2 separate regions of the Homo sapiens genome follow, and region 2 is linked to region 1. A link means that fine-mapping ties the variant in region 1 to the expression of a gene that starts in the linked region. Tissue or cell type: adrenal gland. Region 1 holds a variant in brackets; the other region holds the start of a gene. All regions are shown on one strand. Distances are from middle to middle.

Region 1 (2,755 bases):
GTTCTTGGTACTCGAGCGGTCGCAGCAGATTCTTTCTCTTCTGAAGTTCCTCTCTTTCTGTTTATCTAGCGACCTCCTCCAGGGGCACACCCATTAGCTTGTGGGTCTTCTGTAGTCCCCTCAGGAACGTGGGAGAGTCACAGTCTGTAGCATTTGACTTGAAGCTGGAAAGCCCTAGTAAGACCCAATAGTGTTGATTTGGGGACTTCTTTTGGCCTGGACTCTGGTGGGGGGTGTCCAGCCCTAGATGCCCTCAGGGTCCCAGGCCCATGCTGTGTGACTTTCTCCCCACACACTCCCCTCCTGCTTGGGCGCTGGAATCCAGGAGGAATAGGGGACAGTGAGTGGCAAGGACTGCCTTGTGGTGGGACGGACATCATAGAAAGCAGCACATAGTCTGCAGATGGAGGGAAATAGGCAGGGCCAAGCTGTCGCTTTGCCTTGAGAGTGACCATGATGGAGCTTGACCAGTTCATGACCTGTGCGCTAACCTTGGTCTTTTTTTAATGTGTTTGTTTGAAACAGGGTCTCACTCTGTCACCTAGGCTGATCTCAAACTCCTGGGCTCAAGCAATCATCCTGTCTCAGCCTCCCAAAGTTCTGGGATTACAGGCATGAGCTGACACAGTACCTGGCCTTGGTCTGTCTTTCTTTCTTTCTTTCTTTCTTTTTCTTTCTTTCTTTCTTTCTTTCTTTCTTTCTTTCTTTCTTTCTTTCTTTCTTTCTTTCTCTTTCTTTCTTTCTTCTCTCTCTCTCTTTCTTTCTTTTTCTTTCTTTCTTTCTCTCTCTCTCTTTCTCTCTTTCTTTCTTTCTTTCTTTTTCTTTTTTTGAGAGAGAGTCTCACTCTGTTGCCCAGGCTGCAGTGCAATGGTGTGATCTTGGTTCACCGCAACCTCCGTCTCCCGGGTTCAAGTGATTCTGCTGCCTCAGCCTCCCGAGTAGCTGGGATTACAGGCATCTGCCACCAGGCCCAGCTAATTTTTTTTGTTTTTTCTTTTTGGTTTTTTTAGTAGAGACGGGGTTTCACCATGTTAGCCAGGATGGTCTCGATCTCCTGACCTCATGATCTGCCCGCCTTGGCCTCCCAAAGTGCTGGGATTACAGGCATGAGCCACTGCGCCCAGCCTGGCCTTGGTCTTTCTTAATCCCCAGATGGAACCCCCTCTGCCCCCACCAGCTTCCCCTTCAAGACCCTGCCCAGCACCAGGCTCCCACCCCTCAAGCTCAGATCAGGCCCTGCTCCCACTTGTCTCCTGGATCCTCAGACACCTGCAGTAGGACCAGGGGCTTGCCCAGCAGCAGATGGTTCCAAACAAGGCAAGATTCTTGGAGTAGCAGAAAATATTTCTGCACCCACCATGTACCAGCACAGAGCCGTGGGGAAGCTGCTTCTCTGCAAAATGGGAGTAACAGGACCTGCCATGCAACGTTGCTGTGAGGACTGGTTAAATCAATTATCATTAAGAAAATAAAACTTGGGAAATTCCCAGGCACAACCTTTCTGAACCTCTGCATGGCAGGGTAACAGCAATTATCTAGAGGCCTATTGAGAGAACCAAATAGTGACAATGGCGGGGACAGAATGCTCAGACAGGCCAGGCACCATGTCAAGCACTTCACTGCATCATCTCAATCTTCACATCAGCCTCCATGGTAGGCACCACGGCCACTGACCCCA[C/A]CTCACGGGTGAGAGCTGTGGCACAGAGAGGTTCCGTCCTCATAACACAAATGGGGAAGTTAGGATTTGACTCGTACAGCCCAGCTCCTGAGCCTGCATGGTTAAGCCTTGGGCTGCGGCTACCTCAGAACTGGAAGCACTTCATAAGGCTCCATGTACAAGTTAGTTATTATAAGTCACTTGTGGGGCTAGGGTGGGGGATCCCAGCTAGCAGCCTCCGCACTGACCGGTGGCTGAACCCAGGCTGGGCTGTCTGCCCTGGGAGCAGGGCGATGCCTGGGGACTGATGGCCCCGTGTCCTCTCAGCCGGGCGCTGGGAGGGCCTAAGGCCACCTTCCTGTGGTCTCTGCTGTGGTGCAGGCAGGGGCCACCACCAAGGAAGGTGGGATCCAGCCTGTCTGGGCAGGTCTGCTCTGCCGAGATCCGGCCGGCTCTCCAGTGGCTGGGATGCCCCAGAGCGGACAGGCGAGCACGTCCCGTCCCGAGCACAGGCCCCTGCCCGGGAGGCCCCGCTAATGACCCCGTGCATTCCGGCTTGCATGGCCCGGGAATTGGCTGTGGGCAGGCCCATTAGCTGGAATCCTCCCAATGCTCACACATCAGAGTGGAGGGGGGAGAAGTGAAAAGTTGAAAAAGAGCTAATTATCGCTTTTATCAGAGCGGGTGGGTTGATGGGTCCTGCCCGAGGGCAGCTGGGACTGCATTAAAGATTAAACGCCAGGTGGGGGGAGTGAGCTCGTCATTCCACAGGAGGGGGGCCGGCTGGCGGCCCCACGGAGACCTGGTGGCAGGCGGCAGCCTTAGATCTGTCAGCCAAGCCCTCTGTCCCAGCACCCACCACAGCCACATTCCACCAGGGGACCCCCGCAGTGCCGGCACTTCCGCCCCATGGGGAGGGCAGCTGAAGTCCAGGTCTGCTCCCTCAAGGGCTGTAGGGTCGGGGCAAGCCTAATTATCCAATTGGTAGGTTTCCTGGCACCTGTCTTAGGGGGACTTAATGACCCCTGCACATCAGCCAGTGACCTTCTGTGTAAACCTACATTGGAATCTTATGAGGCCTGGCAAAACCCAAGGTCG
Region 2 (2,500 bases), 44 kb after region 1:
CTGCCGAGGGAACAACCATTCCTTCAAGCCTGAAATCTTCGGAAACAAACAAGTTGTGCACTGCTGTTGGGGTGGATCGCAAAAGGATCAGTCATATCAAGTTCAACCCCTTCTTTGTACAAAAGGAGAAAGTGAGGCCCAGAGACTGAGTGGTCTTCCCATATCATTAGCAAGCTAAGCCCAGAGCTAGGGTCTGGGATGATACCCTCCTCCACAGCCCAGACATGTTTCCACCAGGGGTCATGACCTGGAAATTAGCCCACAGCCCTTACTCCAACCTGTGCAGAACTTCTCAGACCTTTACATACCTCTCCCTGGCTACTTCTTCAAAGCAGCCTCTAGCAGGTCACTTGCTTGGTGTTTTCTTGCCTTTGCTGTATATACTCAGACTGTAAGCCTCCTATTGATTTGGGGTGAAGATTTTAAAAGGAGGCAAGGCTTAAAGTAACAGGCTGTACATATTGGAGTTGGCTTTGGGTGGATGGTGGGAAGGTGCCTTCTTACCCATGATACCCGCCCCCATCCCTCACCAAATCCCTGCAATTCAGGGTCAGAGAAGAAGGGACTGGAAACAATTGCCCTATAACTTTTGCTCCAAACATTCCCCACATAGTTCCTGTCCGGCTCTCTCCCCAGTGTCACCTACCCCACTGTCCCCCAGGTGTCACCCCCCACTGTGATCCTCCTTTTCCAACCATGTACACACACACACACACACACACACACACACACACACACACACACACACACACTGGGCCCTCTCACTCTTTCCAGTGTTCTCCTGAGAAATCACCCCATGCCAGGTCTGAGATGTGGTCGCATTTCCCCAGCGCACGGTTCCTTCCTGCGTCTCCAGCTGGCGCTCTCACCGTCCGAGGTTTCCCCCATTCTCCCTGGACGCGCACGATCCTCTGCCCCGAGACCGGGAACAGCCCGTCCCACCCATCCACCCAGCCCTCTCGGTCTCCGCTCCGCAGGGCGAAGGCGGAGGGTGGGGAAGGAGTCCGAGGCAAGGACGGCTCGCCGGAGGCCAGGATGGCGGCAGACAGGGCACCGGCGTGAGGATCCCGAGAGGGCATCAGAGAGCGGGACTGACGCCTGAACGGGCGGGGCCGGGGCGGACGGGGCCAGGGTCCGAGGCGTGCGCAGAGTCCGAGACCCGGCGGGATGAGGAGAGCGGCGGCTGGGGGGCGACCAGAGACTCGGACACTGAACAGGGCGATGGATTCGGAGCCGGGGAAGCTGGAGACCGAACTCAGGGCGCGAACTCCGACTGCGAAGTGGGTTGGGTCGCGCCGGGCTAGGGTCTGAGTTCGAGACCTCGGCGGGGCCAAGGACAGCGGGAGGGAAAAATTGGCCCAGCTGTAGCGCAGGAGGGAGAGACAGGCAGGCCGGGGAGCGGGCGGGGGGCGCGGCGGGCACTGACCCGAAGTAGGAGGCGGCGGCGGCGGGCAGCGCCAGCAGGCAGAGCCCGGCCAGGGCCAGCGCGGGCGGGGGGCGCATGGTGCTGGCGGCGCTGCGCCCTCTAGCATCTCCTCGCGCCGCTCAAGCTCGCAGCTCCGCCACCACCCGCCCGCGGGACTTTAAACCCGGGTGGGGCGGGGCAGGCGGCGCTGGGAAAGGAGGAGATTGGGAGGCTCCCCAGCCCCGGGCGGCGAGCCCCCCGCCCCATTGGCCCCACCGCCCTCGCCCCGCCCCGTCGCGGGTGGGGCAGCCGCCCCTGGACCGCCCCCGCCCCTCCCCCATTGCCCCGCCCTCCGGCCCCAGGTGAGCGCTCACCTGGCGCCGCGCCCGCCCGGGGTCGCGGTGGCTGAACGTGAAGCCCCCCGGGCCTGGAGAGGCGGGGAGGAGGGTACGAGGCGGGGACGGAGGAGATTCTGCCTCTCCGGGATGGGGCGGAGGCAAGCGCAATGGCTTCTCCGAGGTAGAGAAGGTGGAGGGGTAGGAGGAGGGACGCATCTGGAGTCGGTGGAAAACCCGGGTCATTGTCCGCCCTCCTGCCGGGCAAGTGCGGTCTCTTCGCCGCAGCCCGCAGACTCAGGGCAGGGCCGGGTCCTGGTGCAGAACCGCTCTCTGGAAGCGGGGGAAATGCATGTCCAATGGCTCAGGGGACCCTGTTGCCAGGCAAAGAGTCTTGGGCAGAGGGGAGAGAGGAAAGGGCGCTCTGTTTTTAAACGGGAGAGTGACTGTTACCGGCGAGGCGCGCAGCGTGGGCCTCCGTGGGCTTTTGACAAAATGCTGCTGATGTTCCCCAGCGCAGAAATCCAAAGTGGACAGTGGGGCAGACAGAGCCCTGCGGGAGGAGGGACCCACTTTCCAAGGTGTGTAGATGCCAGAATCTCTGGTAGATAGGGTGGGAACTTCAAGTGTTGGGCCCCAAAGTTCTGTTTTGCTTATTATTTTTTAAAGTTTAACCCCAATTTCTGCTGCGAAGGTGCAGAGATCAAAGCGGCGCGTGGTACCTGTCTAGAAAGGAGACATACAACCAATGACCCAAGTG

Which allele goes with the higher level. Alleles are on the strand shown, and positions count from the first base shown. SD is a standard deviation of normalised expression in the study named.
As copies of A replace C in region 1, the expression in adrenal gland of the gene that starts at base 1,559 in region 2 goes up (moderate effect, 0.42 SD a copy in GTEx).

Evidence for each region. PIP is the estimated chance that this variant, and not a neighbour inherited with it, causes the effect. A credible set is the group of variants that fine-mapping cannot tell apart.
Region 2: WNT9B starts here. The variant in region 1 is the best candidate, but not a certain one, in a credible set for the expression of WNT9B in adrenal gland (GTEx, PIP 0.62).

Annotation. Positions count from the first base shown.
Region 1 is chr17:46,894,368-46,897,122 of GRCh38, reverse strand. It overlaps a transcript of LRRC37A2 not described here. Among named protein-coding and RNA genes, the nearest start is that of LINC01974, 17 kb to the left of the region's middle. RefSeq lists an enhancer at 2,139-2,755. The variant C/A (reference allele first, on the strand shown) is at 1,679.
Region 2 is chr17:46,850,642-46,853,141 of GRCh38, reverse strand. It overlaps WNT9B (Wnt family member 9B), which reads right to left and starts at 1,559. Exons shown (of 4, transcript NM_003396.3): 1 at 1,427-1,559. The coding sequence starts at 1,503. It also overlaps a transcript of LRRC37A2 not described here.